Regions from separate parts of the Homo sapiens genome. Here region 1 is linked to region 2. The links come from fine-mapping of genetic effects on gene expression. A gene starts in region 2. The other region holds a variant in brackets. All regions are shown on one strand. Distances are between the middles of the regions. Region 1 holds the start of PCDHA1 (protocadherin alpha 1). Region 2 holds the start of IK (IK cytokine).

Region 1 (5,378 bases), 140 kb after region 2:
ATTCCCCACTCAACTTTTGCTGGTGTGGGGCCACAGTTTTTTTCTGTGGTGATTACCTGGAGTAAATGATTATCTAGGAGCTTTTTGTCTTGCTAGGCTGCCTATTTCCTGGTCCTTTGTCTAGAGAAAGCATGCTTTTTTTTTTGAGCTTTTTGCATCAGTACCCAATAATGTTTCTGGTTGTTGGCTTCTTCTGGTCCAAGTCTGGAATAGATAAGGCAAAAACCCAGAGATTTCACCACTGTGTCAGTCTTCAAAATTTATAACACTTTAAAGTATTTTGCACTTCCAAATGTTGACAATGTTCTCTAAATCTGCTAACCTTTAGAATGTTTCCAAGTTTAAAGTTTGCTTCACTTTTAGACTAAGAGAATATTCATGTATCTTATGTTGCTCTATCTTTTGTAATAAAGTAATTACTACATTGAACTGTTAAAATATATAAACTGCTTGTTAAAAATAAAATAGCTCCATGTTTTGTCTATATCTTAATTATCAAGTAAACAAGGATTTAGGCTTTCTGATTATGAAGACATACTGGATTAAATAATCCTTATTCACATTAATGTCCTTAACTATTCTTAGTACTTAAAATATAAACATTATGGCCATTCCTTTAAAAAAAAACTAGTGATAGCTTATTCTGATCACATTTCTTAGTCAAACTAAGATGTAGCTATGGGATTCTGATTATGAATTGGACTGAAATTGAAAGAGAGGTTTATTAATAGGTAGGTTATTCTCAAATTATTTTTTAAATATATCTTTGCATAAGATTTACATTTTTCTTTTGACTATGGATTATATAAAGATTCTCAGTACGTGTCTCTGATATTGCGATTCAATATCCATATGATTTTTGTTGTAATATGACAATGTTTGGTCTTGATAAGAAAAAAGCATGGATGAAAATTTAACATAGGAATAAAAGATCTAGTGGACACCGATTCAATTAGGAATACTGAGTTTTGGAAGTCAGAGTTATAAGTTCAATACTTAGGTCATTATGTTATATAACAACAAGGGAAAATGTCACAAATATCTTTATTCTAACAGTTAAAGTATCAGAAAATGATGAAGTTGTTCATACCACATTAAAGGAATTTTACATGTGTTCAGAAATTTTCCAAAAATGTCATCTGTAAGTACCTGATAACTATATATACATGTGCATATGTACGTGTGTGTGTATAATATCATTTAAAAAAAAACACCCAAGCTATCCTAGAATAAGGTGAATCATATCAGTCAAACTACCTTATTTTAAAACTTTGACATTCAGTTGCAAATATTTAATAATAAAAATATATAAGCTGATAAATCGTTTTAAATAAAATGATGTAAGGAGAGGTTAAGTAGATCTTAAAGTTTCTAATTCAATTGTAATATGTTTGTAATCATTACTAAAAGAAAATACTGGATTACACACTCTCCAATGAGATTTGAAATGTTCTGGGTCTTAAAAGGACATAAAATTGAAAATGATTGCATTTAACAAATTGCAGACGGATATAGATTGCATTTTGAAAATCAACGAATGGATCTAAAATTTACATTGGCCACATGATGTCGCTGTACACCACAAAGTCTTGTCAATAGAAGGGAGCTACTGATCACTAAAAGTGAAGGAGGAAGCTCCATTTTGTCACCGCCTGAGAGAAGACAGAAACGGTAAAGAGATAAATGATTGGAAATATTAGATAAAATGGCATGATTTTGAAGTAAGAGGAGAGCATAAGAAAGGTGTAGTCCTTTTGCAATGGTGTTTTCTAGGAGAGGGGGCCTGGGAGCCCGGGATCTGCTTCTTTGGCTTCTGCTCCTCGCAGCCTGGGAGGTGGGGAGCGGCCAGCTCCACTACTCGATCCCGGAGGAAGCCAAACACGGCACCTTCGTTGGCCGCGTTGCTCAGGACCTGGGACTGGAGCTGGCGGAGCTGGTGCCTCGCCTGTTCCGGGTGGCGTCCAAAACACACAGGGACCTTCTGGAGGTAAATCTGCAGAATGGCATTTTGTTTGTGAATTCTCGGATCGATCGCGAGGAGCTGTGCCAGTGGAGCGCGGAGTGCAGCATCCACCTGGAGTTGATCGCCGACAGGCCGCTGCAGGTTTTCCATGTGGAGGTGAAGGTGAAAGACATTAACGATAATCCACCCGTCTTCAGGGGCAGAGAACAAATAATATTTATTCCTGAATCTAGACTCCTGAATTCGCGTTTTCCGATAGAAGGAGCTGCTGATGCAGACATTGGTGCTAACGCTCTTCTAACGTACACGCTCAGCCCGAGTGATTATTTCTCTTTGGATGTAGAGGCAAGTGATGAACTGAGTAAATCTCTTTGGCTTGAATTGAGAAAATATTTGGATAGAGAAGAAACACCAGAACTTCACTTATTACTGACTGCCACTGATGGGGGCAAACCGGAGCTGCAAGGTACAGTTGAGCTGCTGATCACCGTCCTCGACGTTAATGATAACGCCCCACTGTTTGACCAGGCCGTATACAGAGTCCACTTGTTAGAGACTACAGCAAATGGAACATTAGTGACCACATTAAATGCCTCTGATGCTGACGAAGGTGTAAATGGTGAAGTCGTCTTTTCCTTTGACAGTGGTATTTCTCGTGACATTCAAGAAAAATTCAAAGTTGATTCCAGCTCAGGAGAAATTAGGTTAATTGATAAACTGGATTATGAAGAAACAAAATCCTACGAAATTCAAGTAAAGGCAGTTGATAAAGGAAGTCCTCCGATGTCAAATCACTGTAAGGTTTTGGTGAAAGTGCTGGATGTAAATGATAATGCTCCAGAACTGGCGGTCACTTCATTGTATTTGCCTATCAGAGAGGACGCTCCACTCAGCACCGTCATCGCCCTCATCACCGTGTCTGACCGTGACTCAGGTGCCAACGGGCAGGTGACTTGCTCCTTAATGCCCCACGTCCCCTTCAAGCTGGTGTCCACCTTCAAGAATTACTACTCGTTGGTGTTGGACAGCGCCCTGGATCGCGAGAGCCTGTCGGTCTATGAGCTGGTGGTGACCGCGCGGGACGGGGGCTCGCCTTCGCTGTGGGCCACGGCCAGGGTGTCCGTGGAGGTGGCCGACGTG[A/C]ATGACAACGCGCCTGCGTTCGCGCAGCCCGAGTACACAGTATTCGTGAAGGAGAACAACCCGCCGGGCTGCCACATCTTCACGGTGTCTGCGCGGGACGCGGACGCGCAGGAGAACGCGCTGGTGTCCTATTCGCTGGTGGAACGGCGGGTGGGCGAGCGCGCGCTGTCGAACTACGTGTCAGTGCACGCGGAGAGCGGCAAGGTGTACGCACTGCAGCCCCTGGACCACGAGGAGCTGGAGCTGCTGCAGTTCCAGGTGAGCGCGCGGGATGCGGGCGTGCCGCCTCTGGGCAGCAACGTGACGCTGCAGGTGTTCGTGCTGGACGAGAACGACAACGCGCCGGCGCTGCTGGCGCCTCGAGTGGGTGGCACTATTGGTGCAGTCAGTGAGCTGGTGCCGCGATTGGTGGGTGCGGGTCATGTGGTGGCGAAGGTGCGCGCAGTGGACGCCGACTCGGGCTACAACGCGTGGCTGTCCTATGAACTGCAGCCGGCAGCAGGCGGCGCGCGCATCCCGTTCCGCGTGGGGCTGTACACGGGCGAGATCAGCACGACTCGTGTCCTGGACGAGGCTGACTTGTCGCGCTACCGCCTTCTGGTGCTAGTGAAGGATCACGGTGAGCCGGCGCTGACAGCCACGGCCACTGTGCTTGTATCTCTGGTGGAGAGCGGCCAGGCGCCAAAGGCGTCTTCGCGGGCGTCGGTGGGTGTCGCGGGCCCAGAGGCGGCGCTGGTGGATGTCAACGTGTACCTGATCATCGCCATCTGCGCGGTGTCCAGCCTGCTGGTGCTCACACTGCTGCTGTACACGGCGCTGCGGTGCTCAGTGCCGCCCACTGAGGGTGCGTATGTGCCGGGCAAGCCCACTCTGGTGTGCTCCAGCGCGTTGGGGAGCTGGTCGAACTCACAGCAGAGGCGGCAGAGGGTGTGCTCTAGCGAGGGCCCACCCAAGACCGACCTCATGGCCTTCAGCCCAGGCCTATCTCCAAGTCTTAACACGTCAGAAAGAAATGAACAACCAGAAGCAAATTTGGATCTTTCTGGTAATGTAAGTCCAACTTTCGAGTTTTGGCTTTAAATATTTTTCATATTTAACTTGTCTAATCATCTTTTCAAATATCACTTTAAAAAATGTCTTCAAGGTGTTCACTAACGTTGAAATAAATCATACCATTGAATGTAGATATCCTATTAATGGCAGTTTTGTCTTGAATGGAACTAGAAAGCAAAGAAAAATGTAGGGACAAATTGTCGTATTTCTTGATTTAAATGGCAGGTTAAAAAAGCTACAATACAAGGTACAATAAAAGGTAATGTTGGTCATATTTAACACAATATCTCAATGTAGTAAAATAACAGTGACATATTCGGGGTAACTTATTATGTTATCTTTTCTGGTGAAATGTCAAGCCCCGGACAAACAATTCTTGACAAAGTTACAGAAATCATCTGCCTTCCCTTTACGTGGCTAAGTTTCAAAGTGAACAATAAACTGAAGTTTTAAGCAAACGTAATTTAAAATACATTTATTGGCTGGGGGCGGTGGCTTATGCCTGTAATCCCAAAACTTTGGGAGGCCGAGGAGGGCGTATCACCTGAGATCAGGAGTTTGAGACTAGCCTGGACAACATGGTGAAACCCCGTCTCAACTAAAAATACAAAAACATTGGCCAGGCCTGGTGGTGGGCGCCTGTAATCCCAGCTAATGGGGAGGCTGAGGCAGGAGAATCGCTTGAACCCGGGAGGCAGAGGTTGTAGTGAACCGAAGTCGCACCATTGCACTCTAACCTGGGCGACAGAGTGAGACTCTGTCAAAACAAAAACAAAAACAAACCAAAACCGACCAACCAAACAAACAAAAAACACCATTTATTGGGCGATTTGTTTAATTTCTTTATGAAAACATACAACCACGACTTCATTGTCATTGTGAACAATTTCCTGATGCCATTAACCTTGAATTCCCCTGGGTCTAGAAGGCTTAGCATTGCATGTATTTGCTATTTCGGGGATCCAGTTAGGAAACACTTATTAAGCACCTCCCATTCCTCCCATTCACTCACAAATGTTCTAAAACCCTTTACTTTTTTAGCTCATTCGATCCTTCCAACGATTTTATGAAGTGAAGACTTTCGTCACATTTTGTGGATAAAGGTGCTGAGGCTCGCAAAACCTAAGTTCAGTATTATTACTAAGTTTTCTTCAAATTTCCCGAGGATATCCAAAAACTTGCTTGCTGTTAATACAGTTCTTTACCTTTCCTAAAATGTTTA
Region 2 (5,378 bases):
TATGATCAAAATACATTTGGTATGCCTAGAATTAATACAATAGGTCTCAAACACATCTAGGAAGCCCAAGTCCAAATAGAATTTTGGCTGATTCTGGATGGCCGCAATGGGTTGTTTCAGGGAAGCTTTCGGGGGCACTGTAGGCATTTATTATTAACTACGGTGAGCAATGTATTGCATGGGTCCAGCCTCAGCTGGGAGCCCATTCTCTCTCTTTTTTTTTTTTTTTTTTTGAGACGGAGTCTCGCTCTGTCACCCAGGCTGGAGTGTGGTGGCACGATCTCCACTCACTGCAACCTCCACCTCCTGGGTTCAAGCAATTCTCCTGCCTCAGCCTCCTGAGTAGCTGGGATTACAGGTGCCCGCCACCACACCCGGCTAATTTTTGTATGTTTAGTAGAGACGGGGTTTTACCATGTTGGCCAGGCTGGTCTTGAACTCCTGACCTCAGGTGATCCACCTGCTTCAGCCTCCCAAAGTGCTGGGATTACAGGCGTGAACCACCGCACCCAGCTGGGTACCCATTCTCTAGGCTCCCATAGGCTATCTAACATAATACCCAGCACAATACACTAAAGTTACTCGTGTCTATCTCCTCCTGTAGTCTACTGGCTTTTGGAAGGAGAAGCTTTTTTCCTTCTCCAATTATTAGTGCATGTCTAATGTCTACTGTGTCTCACAGATATCTACTCTGAGAACCAATCTGCTTAAGGTGGTCACTCTCCTCCACCTCCTCCCGTCATTCCCAGGGCACCATATAGTTAAAAGCTGTGATTAAAATCCTGTTATTCAGTATGTATAAACATTTATTGCATACCTACAATGTGTTAGGCAACATGATAGGAAAATTTCATTTTGCAATACATTGCCATGCCAGTCTTAGAGGGGTAAGTGCATTCTAGGAAGGGGAATAAATGTAAAGGCTCAATCCTGTTAAACTCTAGCTGCATCTAAAGTTGCAGCTAGAGTTTAACAATAGTGCAAAACAAAGTTTTGATTCCGTTTTCTAATCTCTACAGTGAGAAAAGAAGAACACGCTTCCTCCTAACTAATGAAGATTAAATGAGTTAGGCAGGGAAGCACTCAGCACAGGGCCCAGCTCTATGTGCAAAATTACTGAGATTCTCACACACTACCTGGACTGACACTGGCTACACGTTATTTGGAGAAACTATATTGACTAACTTCTCTCCTGTCTGAAGCCCATTCTTAACTACAAAAACGTCAGCTCCTGGTCCCTACGCAGGATTCGGTCAGCCTGCATACTTATGTTGCCCGGAATACAACGCATCATATAACCCTGCGAATATAAATTTCTTCATGGAAACAAGATCAACAGCAAGGCTAAAGTCCGAGTTCTAGTTTCTCCACGGGTTTCTGCACGACCTTGGGCGGTCCCTTCTCTTCTCAAACCCTTGTTCCCCTACCGGAGCCCCAGACCCCTGGCGTCCCGCACTCACCGTAGCGGGCCCAGAGCTTGGGCTGCACATCGGAGCATTCGCGGATTAGGATGGGTAGGTCGGGATTCGCCTTCTTCAGCTCCACGTAGCGTTTCTCAATGAAGTCCCTGCGGGGCCGGAGAGAGCGCCGCGCGTGCTGTGGGCGGGGGCTTCCCTCAACTTCAGGGAGGTCGAGGTCGTGACCCTGGCGTCCCGAAGCCCGCCCGCCTCACCACGCCGCGCCTCACCTGACGCCCTGGCTGCCGGGCGAGCGCTGACATAAGTGGATGCGAATCTCACGCAGGCCCAGCTTTGCCCCGACTCCTCGACTTGCTGCGGCCGCCGCCATCCTTGTTAATATCGAAGTCGCCAATTCCAGGTCTTCAGGCCAAGTGCTCCGGTCTGACCAACCGCGGACCCTAAAGCCTAGCCCATAGGCTGCATGAGGCAGGGGCGGGGTAAAGCTTGGCCAATGATATAAAAGTATTGTAGGACCGCTGCGAGGTCAATTTCTTTGCGCTCGGGGTTGGTCGGAGGGAAAAACAGGAAGCGGAAAGGCTGCGAACGCAAAGCAGTGTGGGTTGATTCTGAGGTGCACTGTGGGAAAGAGCTTGTCGCTGCGGTGTTGCTGTTGGAGACTCGATTGTTGGTGACAGCGAAAGAACGATAACAAAATGCCGGAGCGAGATAGTAAGGCTCAGGCCATCCGTTATTTCTTCCCCATGGCACTTGGGGCACTTGGCGCATTATTGTAGCTTCTGAGCTTAAGCCGGGTGTGTGTGTGTGTGTGTGTGTGTGTGTGTGTGTGTGTATGTATGTATGTGTGACGCTTGAGCCCGGAGAAGCCACAGGGTCCTAAGTGAGGCCGACAGCTCCAAACTCCGTCCCCAGTCCTCACTCCTACTCCAAGTGATGATGGGCGGCTTTTGTGCGTGGATCGCTTTCCCCCAGTCCTGTCCCCATACTTAATCCTGGGTTGCGCGTATTTATCTTTTACGTAGTATTTTAGACGTGATCTTCCGGAAGTCTTCTCTGATCCTCCAGCGCAGGATTAGGGTCCTCTGCTTTGTGCTCCCACAGCTTCTTGTAGTTTCCTATTTCAGCACTTATTACATTGTGTTGACACTGTCGCTGTTCTAACTTTTGTTCTGTATTGTTCACTACTATATCTCAAATTTTTGCATAGGATCTGACACGTAAGAGACTGATTAAATTAACGTCAATTTTTTTTGTCAGGTGAGCCGTTCTCCAACCCTTTGGCCCCCGATGGCCACGATGTGGATGATCCTCACTCCTTCCACCAGTGAGTATTTTGTGCTAGGACCATGGAAATGAGTTGGGCAATGAATAGAAAAGTGGTGGTGATGGTGAAAGAATTCTGAATGTCTTGTCATCAAGGATGGTAAAAAATTATACCCGCTGGCCCTTTATCTCTGTGAGCCTTAACTGGATCAGGCCAAGTGCATAAGGGTATTAGAAGGGAAATTCCTGCAGGAAAGGTGTTAAGTTTTTTTTTTTTTTTATACGTGTTGTGTAATTACACATTATATAGGAATTACTTCTTCCAATAGCAAATTAAAACATAGGAAATAAGGGTAAAATCATCTTTTTATTTTTTTTGAGACTGAGTTTCGCTCTTGTTGCTCAGGCTGGAATGCAGTGGTGCGATCTCGGCTCACCACAACCTCCGCCTCCCGGGTTCAAGCAATTCTCCTGCCTCAGCCTTCCGAGTAGCTGGGATTACAGGCATGTTCCACTACGCCCGGCTAATTTTGTATTTTTAGTAGAGATGGGGTTTCTCCATGTTGATCAGGCTGGTCTTGAAATCCCGACTTCAGGTGATCCACCCGCCTCTGCCTCCCAAAGTGGTGGGAGTACAGGCGTGAGCCACCGTGCCTGGCCCCCGATAAAATCATCTTTGATAACATCCCCAATTCCAGTCCATTTCTTTTTTTTTTTCTTTTCTTTTCTTTTCTTTCTTTTTTTTTTTTTTTGAGACGGAGTCTCACTGTTACCCAGGCTGGAGTGCAGTGATGCAATCTTGGCTCACTGCAACCTCTGCCTCCTGAGTTCAAGCGGTTCTCCTGCCTCAGCCTCCCAAGTAGCTGGGACTACAGGCATGTGCCACCATGCACGACTGATTTTTTTTTTTGTATTTTTAGTAGAGACAGGGTTTCACTGTGTTCGTCAGGCTGGTCTTGAACTCCTGGCCTGAAGTGATCCACCCGCCTCAGCCTCCTAAAGTGCTGGCATTACAGGCGTGAGCCACCGTGCCCAGCCTCAGTCCTTTTCTTAGAAGTAACCACAGTTACCTTTTTTGGCATATCTTTTCCTCCCGTTGCCCAGGCTGGAGTTCAATGGCATTATTTCTGCTCACAGCAACCTTTGCCTCCTGGGCTCAAGCAATTCTTCTGCCTCAGTTTCCCCAGTAGCTGGGATTACAGGCATGCCCCACCATGCTTGGCTAATTTTTGTATTAGTAGAGACAGGGTTTCGCTATGTTGGCCAGGCTGGTCTTGAACTCCTGACCTCAAATGATCTGCCCGTCTCGGCGGCCCAAAGTGCTGGGATTACAGGCGTGAGCCACTGCGCCTGGCCCTCCTACTCTTTTTTAAATGCATTTATACACATACATGCATATCTGAGGAAAACACAACATTGCTTTGTGATTTAAAATATTTGAGTTAAATGATATTATGCTGTATATATCATTTTTGCAACTTGCTTCTTTTTAAACCCTGCTCAGTGTTTCTGAGATTATCTTTCAGAGCAGTGACAAGCATTCCCTCCTTGGCTAAACTTTAGTCAGGTTCCCCAAAGAGTCCCATTTTTCAGCAGGACTCATCCGTGGCCTGCTGAGCACAGTTTTAACAAAGAAATCAACCACCGCTCCACCCCCATACCTAACCAAGTTGCTTTTAGTAATTTTCTATAAATTCTCACTTGTCCCTGTTGTATTCGGAATTAAGTTCAGTCTCTCTACTCTATTACAATGGTCTTGACTCTTGTTACAGTAGTCTTCAATAAAGTCTTCCTTGGGGAGAAGAGGAACTTGATTAGATATCAAGTTGGATTGGATATCAAGAGTGGGAAAACTTTCTGTGAACTGACTTAGGATTCCTTTTTAAAACTGAGGTCAGCAGGCCAAGGAAGAGCCCTAGTCAGAAGAGAGCTTTAAAGGAGTCTGACTTTAATTTGATCAAGAGAGGAGTCTTTGTTAGTGTACCAATTAAAATAATCTCTTGTACCATTAGTGCTGTCTTTCCCTCTTTGGGAAACACCATCATAGTTTAGTCAGTCTCCAGCTAATAAACGCTTAGTCTGTTTCAGACTGATTCTTTTCTTTTTTTTATTTTTTTGAGACAGAGTCTTGCTCTTTTTGCCCAGGCTGGAGTGTAATACCTAGATCTCGGCTCACTGCAAACTCCGCCTCCCAGGTTCAAGCGATTTTCCTGCCTCAGCCTCCTGAGTAGCTAGGATTACAGGCGCCCACCACAACGCCCAGCTAATTTTTTTGTATTTTTAGTAGAGATGGGATATCACCATGTTGGCCATGCTGGTCTTGAACTCCTGACCTCGGGTGATCCGCCTGCGTCAGCCTCCCAAAGTGCGGCGATTATAGGTGTGAGCCACTGCACCCGGCCAGACTGATTATTTTCAAGGCTATAACTGAATTAAATTTACAGGCCTTCTTATATACATATGTCAGTAATGGACCAGGCTAAATATAAATAAATGGAGTTGCTGGCTCATAGGATATATATACTTAAATTTTAACAAATACTGCAAAATTGCCCTTCAAATTGGTTATACTGGTTTACATTCTCATCAGCATTATATGAGAGAGTCCCCTTCCCAAATTCTCACTCACACTTGATTTATCAAACTTTCTGGTAGTTAACACTCTGATGCATTAAAAGTGGCATGGCATATCTGGTC

What was found.
Region 1: its variant is fine-mapped to the expression of IK in whole blood (INTERVAL, PIP above 0.99).

The regions. Positions count from the first base shown.
Region 1 is chr5:140,784,532-140,789,909 of GRCh38, forward strand. It overlaps PCDHA1 (protocadherin alpha 1), which reads left to right and starts at 1,609. Exons shown (of 4, transcript NM_018900.4): 1 at 1,609-4,153. The coding sequence starts at 1,760. It also overlaps PCDHA@. The variant A/C (reference allele first, on the strand shown) is at 3,104.
Region 2 is chr5:140,645,796-140,651,173 of GRCh38, forward strand. It overlaps IK (IK cytokine), which reads left to right and starts at 2,034. Exons shown (of 20, transcript NM_006083.4): 1 at 2,034-2,129; 2 at 2,676-2,742. The coding sequence starts at 2,114. It overlaps NDUFA2 (NADH:ubiquinone oxidoreductase subunit A2), which reads right to left and starts at 1,835. Exons shown (of 3, transcript NM_002488.5): 1 at 1,688-1,835; 2 at 1,461-1,567. The coding sequence starts at 1,788. MIR3655 (microRNA 3655) reads left to right here and starts at 2,049; the gene lies at 2,049-2,131. It also overlaps a transcript of TMCO6 not described here. RefSeq lists enhancers at 1,413-1,832, 1,573-2,108.